Homo sapiens: one gene and its partners. The protein of the gene in region 1 purifies or fractionates together with the protein of each later gene. This does not show direct contact. Each region holds a gene or a part of one and is shown on either strand. Other genes may lie near its edges.

Region 1 (3,650 bases):
TGCCTTCTGCCTGCCTTTCTCTTTTAACATGCGCATGTGGCCAGAAGGAAAGCATGTAGAATCTCTCTGGCTGCGCTGGGACTGGACATTGGGCAGAGGGAGTTGGGGAGCCAGGGAAGGAAAAGAGGACTCTATTTAGATCCAGCCCCATGAAAAAACTGCTGTCTTTTTACACTTAGGGCTAGATGTTGAAATCTGTCACATCTGAGCCCGGCAGACTGGGTGTCCTCAAAATCTTAATGCAGTTTTAAGCTTTCATAATTTCAGAAGCATAAATGATCCAAACTTGCCAAAACATCATTTAAAATTTAATTAAGGCCGGGCGCGGTGGCTCACGCCTGTAATCCCAGCACTTTGGGAGGCCGAGGCAGGCGGATCACGAGGTCAGGAGATTGAGACCATCCTGGCTAACACGGTGAAACCCCATCTATCTCTACTAAAAAATACAAAAAATAAGCTGGGCGTGGTGGCGGATGCCTGTAATCCCAGCTACTCGGGAGGCTGAGGCAAGAGAATGGCATGAACCCGGGAGGCGGAGCTTGCAGTGAGCCAAGAATGCACCACTGCACTCCAGCCTGGGCGACAAAGCGAGACTCCTTTCTCAAAAAAAAAAAAAAAAAGTTTAATTAAATTTCCTTCATGCTTATCTAGTCTTGTGGAATTTGAACAATACCGTTTTACTTTTTTGTTTTAGGCAATGTTTGCTGTCTTCCATTGGAGTGACTGAATTTCTACATGACGGCTTTTTGTAAGTTTGTAGTATTTACATTTTTGTTTTAGGCAATGTTTGCTGTCTTCCATTAGAGGGACTGAATTTCCACCTGACGGCTTTTTGTAAGTTTGTAGCATTTACGCTTACGAATATTAAGCCTGCACTAAGACCTGGGACACCCTGTCTGCTGTGCAGTTAGGCTGACTTTGAAGCTTCTGATGGTTTTGAGCTTTTCTTTGAAGCCCAAGCAAGTGTTTATGGCATAAATTACAGGTATTTTCGCCTGGGGCTAGGTTGGGTTTGAGGTGTAATCAAGGTGCTGGACTGTCCTCCAGGCTCTGAATAAAGGAGAGGTAAGCTCCTTACAGACATTAGCTCATTAGCCAAGCAAGTGGACACAGAGCTGTTCCCATTTCATGGCAAGTGTAAAAATCCGGAGGAAGGCAGGAAGAGACAGTTCTGACTTCCTGTGCAATCCACCCATTTGGCCTTAAACAAGTAAAGACCAAATGAAAATGATGTGAGAGTTATTTTTTAGCTGGACATGTAACCAGATTCTAATCACCTTCTGAATTGATATTTAATTACACTGTAGTGTGTAGCCGATCTCCAGAGAGATAGAATGTTTGGCACAGTTACTCTTGAGTATCTTTTTGTCAACATCACTGCTTTCACTGCTTCTTTCAGTCAATATATTTTGTTTCCAGCTTCCTTCCTAGGCCTTTAATTCCTGCTGGGACAGGAATCTCTCAATTCACTCTTAAGCCTTGTCGAAACCTTTCTTCCTCCCATCTCCCACTCCATCCAGAAATAGAATTGTCCTCAGCAACAGAGGTTGGCAAGCTCTAAGCCGTATCTAAGTTTCAGAGACTGTTTTTTGTTGTTGTATCTTATTAGAAAAGTGCTTTAACGTTTTTCAGCAGATAATTTGGCATATCACGGCTGCTTTCACCTTGTGCCTGTGATGACAATCTATTTCTTGGTGACTAATAAGTTATTCCTGCTCTTACACCAAAGTGCACCTCCATGCTCTTTGAGAATGTGATGTTGGCTCTTATTCCAGCCTTTGTTCTCCCTTGTCAGGCAGGATAGCTGCTCTTGTTGCCTGACATGTTGATCATCCCTCTGCCTTTTTTTAGAATGGTAAGCTTTGAGGGAGCTGGGTTGTGGGAAACGTGATTCCAGCTCCCAGGAGCTTGACAATATCACACATCTTTACAGTAAGCAGATGAGAAGATGACAGTTGCTGCAGCACATCGAGGGTAGTCATGTTTTCCTTCCTGAGGATTTGGTGCTAGGTTGTAGCTGACCACATGCTGTCCGTTTACTAACATACACTGATAGTGAGCTGAGGAGCGGGGCCTGGGACCGCGGAATCAGGGGTCTGTGGTTTGTATGTAGCGTAGAAGCTGAGCTGATGTCTGATAGTGTCCCACAGGGCAAGAGGCCTCCACAAGAGACCAGCTGGACCTTTGTGAACCCTGGAGATGCAGCCAGGATGTACATTTCCATTCAAGGCTGAATGGACATGAATAACCTTGGTCGTTGCTTGGGTGTGGCCTCACTGGCAGTGATCCAAAACATGCTGGTGGAGGAGCAACGGTGATTTCATGCATGGGAATTCTCTGCAAACCAAGGGTAGATCATTTGTACTGAAAGCTTGTTGGATGAAGTCCTACCCTGAAGTAAATTGCATCGGTTTACTTGACCCTCACCTTTATTTTCCTAATGAGGAAGAAAGCTCTGGGTTAAACAGTTCTCAGTATTTTTGCTGTAAAACTTATAATGTAAAACAACAATGCTGTTTTAAAATCTAGTGATTAAAAATTATGTAAGTATGGAAAATTACTGTGACTTCTCTAACACTTCTAGACGAATTTGTGTTTTCCTGAGCACGGTAGCATTTCTGTGAAATTTTACAATGATGTTTATGTGCGTGTGCAGACATACTTCTTTTTGGGGCAGTGCTCGGGACACCTGGGTTTGTGAACTCCAGTAATTCAGCACCCAGCAGTTGGGACACCTGGACTTGGTTCCGTTTCTTTCTGACTTGTCTGACAAGCTGCCACATGAAGAAGGCCCCTGTCCATTACAGCTGAGGCGCATGTCCTCATTTTAACCTTTGTAGATATATAGTAATATTGATATGAATGCTTTTAGTGCCATAGAAATTGTGCCCATAGAATTGCCTCTTCTTCACTTTCTAAACTTCACTCAGTTTTCCTCTTGCTGTGTTCTTAGTATATTTGAGGACCTGAAATAGTTTGTAGTGTACACCTAAATTGCAATGCCTTCTATAAGTTTCATATACAGAGAGAGAGTTTAAGGTATTATGGAAAGTAAGATTTAACACCCTCAAAGCTCTTCATCTTGAGAGCCAATCTGCCAGGTTTAAATCCTGGTTCTGTTAACCGTGTATCCTTGGGCAAGTTATGTAATCTCTGTGTCTCAGTTACCTCATATAAATTTTGAACAATAATAGTCCTTCCCTCATAGGGTTACTGCGGGGATTGAATAAGTGAATAAATGTAAAGCCTCTAGAATAGTGCCTGGCACGTGGTAAGGACACAATAAATGTTAGCCATTCTCATTGTTAATGTTAGTTTTACTTATATGAATGGTGGAATTTTATGTAGATTGCTAATCAACTTTGACTCTGTTATTTTCATGTGAAATTATGGTTGAAAAGTTAGGGGCATGAGCCATTTATTGAAATGAGAAGTTTCAGTTTATAATTATAATTGTCTTTTTTTCCTTAGGACAAGACTTAAAACCTGTCTTGGATAGAGAATATTTAGCCATTTACCTAAAAATGGTATTTTTTACATGCAATGCATGTGGTGAATCAGTGAAGAAAATACAAGTGGAAAAGCATGTGTCTGTTTGCAGAAACTGTGAATGCCTTTCTTGCATTGACTGCGGTAAAGATTTCTGGTAA
Region 2 (3,650 bases), on another chromosome or scaffold:
TAGTAGAATTTTAAATACTTACAGAATGAATAATGAAGGGTGTAAATTCAGTCACTAGGAGAGAAGTAGACCATCATCGCTGCCCGACTTTTCAGTTATCTTCTGGTTTTGTGGTGGTTGTGCTTTTGTCACTTTACATGAGGTAAAATGGGTATGCTTTTGTCACTTTACATGAGGTAGTTGATGTTAGTAATGCGCATTAAGATAGAAATATCTTGTATTTATTGATAAATTGGATTTTTTTTTTATTTTTGTTAGATCCAGTGCTTGCTGGGTTTTTTTAGAGAGACAGGGTCTCACTCTGTCCCCCAGGCTGGAGCACAGTGACGTGATCAAGGCTCACGGCAGCCTTGACCTCCTGAGCTCAAGCAATCCTGTTTCAGCCTCCCGAGTAGCTGGCACTGCAGGCATGCTTCACCATGCCCAGCTAATTTTTAAATTATTTTTTGTACACACATGGTCGCCCTGTTTCCCAGGCTGATCTTGAATTCTTGAGCTCAAGCGATCCGCCTGCCTTGGGCTCCCAAAGTGCTGGGATTACAGGCATGAGCTACTATGCCTGGCCTGGATTAACTGGCTTTTGAGGGGGCCTGAGTTAAGTTCCTACCACATATTTCCGGTCATAGAAACATCACCATACTTCTAAATAAAGACCAAAACATTTAAAATATTAAACATTGAAATAAATGTGAGCTATATATACATTTGAAACAGTAATAAAAGGAATTGACATAATTATTTACCCAGTTATTCCCATCCACGGTTGTAGGTGGCTGGAGTTTAATCCTGATAGCTCAGGGAAAAGGGTAACAGGCAAGAGCCAACCCTAGAAAAGGCGCTGTTTCATCACAGGACAAACTCATACACCTACATTCGTTGGGACTGGGACTGGGATAACTTCAACACACCAGTTCACCTAATGTGCACGTATTTGGATGTCGGAGGTTATGCTCACAGATACCTCCTGAGCTTGGTTTGTAGGTTTTCAGTATTACTCGTACTCTAGCAAAAGAAGCTTTCGGAAGGAGAGAAAATTTAATTTTTTGCTATTTGTTAGACTGATCTCCTAGTGTTTCTCTCTTTAGCCATGTTAATTGTGTCCAATGAATTTTTAATTTTGTTTTTGAGACAGAGTTTCACTCTGTCGCCCAGGCTGAAGTGCAGTGGCATGATCTCAGCTCACTACAACCCCCCGCCTTCCAGGTTCAAATGATTCTCTGTGCCTCACCCTCCTGAGTAGTTGGAACTACAGGCACGTATCACCATGCCCAGCTAATTTTTGTGGTTTTAATAGAGATGGGGTTTCACCATGTTTACCAGGCTGATCTCGAAGTCCTGACCTCAAGTGATCCTCCTGCCTCAGCCTCCCTGAGTGCTGTGATTACAGGCGTGAGCCACCGCGCCCAGCTGAGTATTATTCTTTACACTCTAAACCATACTGTGTTTCACAAAAGTCTCTTAACTGTATACTTTAGATAGTCAGATTCTGAAATGCCGGTATATAATTTACTGCATAAAATGCATGTTTGGCTGTGAGTCAAAAACTGCGGTTGAGGTTCCAGTGCTGGTTAGGGAGTTTGTTCTCTGTATAGATCGAGGTCCATTTAGGGGCTTATGGATAATCAAAACTGCACGTGGTACATCTATGCCGTTTGTTAACCAACAGAACTGTTCCTGCTAAAATGTTTGTATGGTGTTTTTTGGTAGGAGGCAAGGAGAAAACGAAGAGAAAGAAATTTTGAAAAACAAAAGGAGAGGAAGAAGAAGAGGCAGCAGGCTAGGAAGACTGCATCAGTTCTTAGTAAAGATGATGTGGCACCTGAAAGTGGTGATACTACAGTGAAGAAACCTGAATCAAAGAAGGAACAGACCCCAGAGCATGGGAAGAAAAAACGTGGCAGAGGAAAAGCCCAAGTTAAAGCAACAAATGAATCCGAAGACGAAATCCCACAGCTGGTACCAATAGGAAAGAAGACTCCAGCTAATGAAAAAGTAGAGGTATTGTTTTAATATTTACTGTTCATAATGGATTGGTTCAGTGGCTACTGTGTCAGGCAGGTACTGTGCTGAGCAATAAATGATGAAAAATACTAGAGTGAACCCAAAGAACTGTGAAGGTGGTTATCATATCATGATTTATTGTACCTTTTTTTTTTTTTTTTTTTTAGATGGGATCTTGCTATATTGCCCAGACCGGTCTTACACTCCGGGGGTCAAAACAGTCTTCCCACCTTGGCCTCCCAAAGTGCTGGGATTACAAGTGTGAGCCACCACACCTAGTCCCAACCGGTTGGCTTTTTTTTTTTTTTTTGCTTTGCTTTTTTTTGAAGATGGAGTCTCACTCTGTCACCCAGGCTAGAGTGCAGTGGCATGATCTCAGCTCACTGCAACCTCCGCCTCCCTGGTTCAAGCAATTCTCCTTCCTCAGCCTCCCGAGTAGCTGGGATTACAGGCGCGCACTACCATGCCCAGCTAATTTTTGTGTTTTTGGTAGAGACGGGGTTTTGCCATGTTGGCCAGGCTGGTCTTGAACTCCTGGCCTCAGGTGATCCGCCCGCCTTGTCCTCCCAAAGTGCTGGGATTACAGGCATGAACCACCGCACTCAGCCACCAGTTGGCTTTTACACAGAGAATCTGGGAACCCTTGCCCTACACCATGTGCCAGGGATGTGCAGCTACATTTGGAAGACTCAGGATTTGCTCCCATGTGTCTCTGCTGTGCTCCTCATGGTGCTTCCAGGATTCCCTCCCCTCAGTCATAGGGAAAGGTGGTTTTCCTCTGATTGGACCAGGAAGACCTCTGGGTCTTCACAGTTTTTTTTTGTTTTTTTTTTTTGAGACAAGGTCTCACTTTGTTGCCCAGGATGGAGTGCAGTGGCATGATCTCGGCTCACAGCAACCTCCACCTTTCGTGCCCAAGCAATTCTCGTGCCTCAGCCTCCTGAGTAGCTGGGATTACAGGTGTGTGCCAACATGCCTGGCTAATTTTTGTATTTTTAGTAGAGATGGGGTTTTGCCATGTTGGCCAGGCTACTCTTGAACTCCTGGCCTCAAGTAATCCACCTGCCTCAGCCTTCCATAGTGCTGGGATTACAGGCATGAGCCACCTCACCTATACCTCATTCTTAATAGTGGAATACAGCTTATTTCTGTCATCATACTGAGGTGTACCTTTTGGGGGTTAACTAATAAAAACAGTAACTTGGCCATGCGCTGAAAAACAGTAACTTGGCCGGGCACAGTGGCTCACGCCTGTAATCCTAGCACTTTGGGAGGCCGAGGCAGGTGGATCACCTGAGGTCAGGAGTTCGAGACCAGCCTGGCTAACATGGTGAAACCCTGTTTCTACTAAAAATACAAAAAATGAGCCGGGCGTGGTGGCACACACCTATAATACCAGCTACTCGGGAGGCAGAGGTTGCAGTGAACTGAGATTGTGCCATTGCACTCTAGCATGGGCAGCAAGAGCGAAACTCAGTCTGAAAAATAAATAAATACAAATAAAAACAGTAACTCCTGGAGTTAGAGTGTCAGGTTTTGTGGCTTTTTCTATATTAAACTTACTTTTTTTTTTCTTAGATTCAAAAACATGCCACAGGAAAGAAGTCTCCAGCAAAGAGTCCTAATCCCAGCACACCTCGTGGGAAGAA
Region 3 (3,650 bases), on another chromosome or scaffold:
AGATTGTGCCACTGCACTCCAGCCCGGGTGACGGTGGGATGAGCCGAGATGGCGCCACTGCACTCCAGCCCGGGTGACGGTGAGATGAGCCGAGATGGCGCCACTGCACTCCAGCCCGGGTGACGGTGGGATGAGCCGAGATGGCGCCACTGCACTCCAGCCCGGGTGACGGTGGGATGAGCCGAGATCGCGCCACTGCACTCCAGCCCGGGTGACGGTGAGATGAGCCGAGATCGCGCCACTGCACTCCAGCCCGGGTGACGGTGGGATGAGCCGAGATCGTGCCACTGCACTCCAGCCCGGGTGACGGTGGGATGAGCCGAGATCGTGCCACTGCACTCCAGCCCGGGTGACAGGGTGGGATGAGCCGAGATGGCGCCACTGCACTCCAGCCCGGGTGACGGTGGGATGAGCCGAGATCGTGCCACTGCACTCCAGCCCGGGTGACGGTGGGATGAGCCGAGATTGTGCCACTGCACTCCAGCCCGGGTGACGGTGGGATCAGCCGAGATCGTGCCACTGCACTCCAGCCTGGGTGACGGTGAGATGAGCTGAGATCGCGCCACTGCACTCCAGCCCGGGTGACGGTGGGATCAGCCGAGATTGTGCCACTGCACTCCAGCCCGGGTGACGGTGGGATGAGCCGAGATTGTGCCACTGCACTCCAGCCTGGGTGACAGAGTGAGGCCCTGACTCAAAAAAAAAAAAGACAGAAAGGAAATATACCAAAATGTGTCAAGTTGGTTGTCCATAGGTTATGAAATGTGGGAGTTTGAGTTTATTTTAACTTTTATATGTTTTCCATAATACTCTTTTTTTTTTTTAATGGGAGAGTGCCCTACCTCTTTTTATTTAAAAATCTTACATGAGTTAAGCCTTTCATTTCCTTGTCTTCAGCAATTTACTTTCTCTGTTGCAGGATGGCAAAACAGAAGAGAAAAGTTCCTGAAGTGACAGAGAAAAAGAACAAAAAGCTGAAGAAGGCGTCAGCAGAGGGGCCACTGCTGGGCCCTGAGGCTGCACCAAGTGGCGAAGGAGCCGGCTCCAAGGTAAGGCCGCCTGTGCTTCACTGGCCCTGCCCTCTGGGATCCACCTGTTATCTGATCTGGAGGGAGAGGGGGTGGCTCAGCCTGCTGGTCTCTGTGGAGCAGAGCCTGGAACAGGTGCGGAGGCGTGGTGGGGCTTGGTGCCTTCCAGAAGCGATTGTAGGACAAAGAAGGATTTTAGTAAATTTTGAGTTGGAACCCTATGACTGCCTTTCTTAGCTGCCAGGAAACTGCTGTTTTGGGTGCTGTGTTGTGTAGGGGACTTGGTGGCGGCATGCAGGATGGTGAGGGGCCTGCAGCAGGCCTTCGGTTGGGCCCTGGGAAGGTGCGAGGGGCGGCTCCTCACCTGGGCATGTGCAGAGGCGTGTCCTGAAAGCCTGTGTTTAAAAATGCACATCTAGAAATGTTCGTGTCGAATAACACGATTATTGTCCGTTTGAAAATCACCTATTGGTATCACTTTCTAAACGGTGTGCAGCGGGTTATGAATAACGTTGAGATTTGAGTATCCACCACCATTCACTTGAAAAGACACGTGAGCCATCTTCTCCTAAAGTGATGCATTTTTATTCTTCGTTTTCTTGAGACACAGTCTCTGTCGCCCAGGCTGGAGTGCAGTGGTGGGATCTCAGCTCAGTGCAACCTCCATCTCCTGGGTTCCAGCGATTTTCCTGCCTCGGCCCCACAGGTAGCCAAGACTGCAGGTGCACACCACCACGCCCGACTAGTTTTTTGTATATTTGATAGAGACCGGGTTTCACCATGTTGGCCAGGCTGGTCTTGAAACTTCCGACCTCAAGTGATCCACCCACCTCGGCCTCCCAATATGCTGGAATTACAGGTGTGAGCCACCGCACCTGGCCTGCATTTTTATTCTTTTTTTTTTTTTTTTTTTTTTTTGAGACAGAGTCTCGCTCTGTCACCCAGGCTGGAGTGCAGTGGCGCCATCTTGGCTCACTGCCAGCTCCGCCTCCCAGGTTCATGCACTCTCCTGTCTCAGCCTCCTGAGTAGCTGGGACTACAGGCGCCTACCACCACGCCCAGCTAATTTTTTGTATTTTTTAGTAGAGACGGGGTTTCACCATGTTAGCTGGGATGGTCTCGACCTCCTGACCTCGTGATCCACCTGCCTCGGCCTCCCAAGTGCTGGGATTACAGGTGTGAGCCACTGCTCCAGGCCCTGCATTTTTATTCTTGAAAGTATTTTATTATGTACTGTATCATGTTTATCTTCCACAAAAAGATGCATATACATTTAAATTTGAAAATATAAAAAATTTTTTGACCCACCAAGTTCTGAGTGTTAAAATTTCTCTTCTGCATTGAGCTGTGTTTACCATTAGGAGCATGCAGTTGATCGAAACAGCATAATAGATTAGGAATTTTCACAAATGATTCTACATAAAGTGAAATCTGACGACGCGCGCGTCACATCGTGGTAAGAGCATTGTCACCCCGTGTTACCACCCCGTGGAAGGGCAGGGCTTTCCGTGTCTGCGGATGGCACACTCACCTGTGGATCCGCGCTGTCATTGCTCGAGAGAAAGCGGGTTTCCACAGGCTTTGTTCCTGTTCTCATGTCAGATTTCAGTGCTGAGCGCCCTTGCTGACATAGATGAGTAAATGGGAACAAGAGTAGTGTTGTAGCTTTGTTGCTTAAGTCCTTAAACTTTGAGACCATTCTGTGGTTTGGGCACATATTTTCAGGATTTATTTTAAAGCTCTATCAGTAAGTGACAGGTGGACTGGGTCCCTGAGTTGTGCAGGGGCCCGGTGCTGGCTTGTTACATTTGTTCACTTCCCCAGGGTGACACCAGGGTTCAAGCTTTGCCATTGATTAGTGCTGGAGGTCTCGTGCCTGGGGCAGTGTGCCATTGTGAGATGTGGGGTGGCAGGTGGCCCTGTTTTTCATGAAATGAGAAAATGGCCGCTGTGCAAAGGGAGGTGGAAAGGGGGAGCCCACGTGGGCCCTTCAAAGCGGCTTCCAGCAGGAGGTGGGCACAGCCAGTGCTTGGAGGGGTCCCTGGGCTACCCAGCCACGGATGCCCGGGACGGTGGAGTGTGCCTGGTTGCTGGGTGTGGCCCAGCTCACTCTGGGATCCTGTCCAATGAGGCAGTGCTGAGCTCTCGGAAGGTGGTGTGAAATCACGTCCACCACGTCTGTGGCTGCAGGCGGCTCAGCAGGCGTGGGTGGAGGGGAGAAGCTGGGGTGTGTGCCTAGAGGAGCTCCTGGCTGTCTCAGAGGGTCGTCTCTCACTGCCACCCCCCGGGCGAGGGAAGCCAGACAGCACCCCAAGCACAGCCAGACAGCTTGTCCTGGGCTCTCTAGCAGAACACCCCAAGGTCACCCGGAGGCTGAGGCCTGGCAGGTGCAGAGGTCCTGCGGCTCCCGCGCAGCGGGTCAGCAGGCAGCCCCGCGTTCCACCTGAGCCTCACCTTGAATTTCGGCTCCTCCTCCGCAGGCTGTTGAATTCCTGTGTCTCCCAGGCTGACTGCCTCTTTTTTTTTTTTTTTGTGCTTTTTTAAAATTTTTTTTATTTTTTATTATTATACTTTAAGTTTTAGGGTACATGTGCACATTGTGCAGGTTAGTTACATATGTAT

The links.
Region 2: the proteins of LYAR (region 1) and RSL1D1 purify together in Homo sapiens (co-immunoprecipitation; 2 studies listed by BioGRID and IntAct, with this or other methods). This does not show direct contact.
Region 3: the proteins of LYAR (region 1) and CHLSN purify together in Homo sapiens (co-immunoprecipitation; 2 studies listed by BioGRID and IntAct, with this or other methods). This does not show direct contact.

What each region holds. Positions count from the first base shown.
Region 1 is NC_000004.12:4,283,617-4,287,266, reverse strand, and holds part of LYAR (cell growth-regulating nucleolar protein), read left to right. Parts: intron 1-694; 5' UTR 695-748; intron 749-3,471; 5' UTR 3,472-3,524; coding exon 3,525-3,646; intron 3,647-3,650. UniProt on the Homo sapiens protein: Plays a role in the maintenance of the appropriate processing of 47S/45S pre-rRNA to 32S/30S pre-rRNAs and their subsequent processing to produce 18S and 28S rRNAs. Also acts at the level of transcription regulation.
Region 2 is NC_000016.10:11,838,043-11,841,692, reverse strand, and holds part of RSL1D1 (ribosomal L1 domain-containing protein 1), read left to right. Parts: intron 1-1,707; coding exon 1,708-1,998; intron 1,999-3,579; coding exon 3,580-3,650. UniProt on the Homo sapiens protein: Regulates cellular senescence through inhibition of PTEN translation. Acts as a pro-apoptotic regulator in response to DNA damage.
Region 3 is NC_000007.14:1,124,656-1,128,305, reverse strand, and holds part of CHLSN (protein cholesin), read left to right. Parts: intron 1-919; 5' UTR 920-920; coding exon 921-1,049; intron 1,050-2,559; exon of another isoform or gene 2,560-2,652; intron 2,653-3,650. UniProt on the Homo sapiens protein: Hormone secreted from the intestine in response to cholesterol, where it acts to inhibit cholesterol synthesis in the liver and VLDL secretion,leading to a reduction in circulating cholesterol levels. Acts through binding to its receptor, GPR146.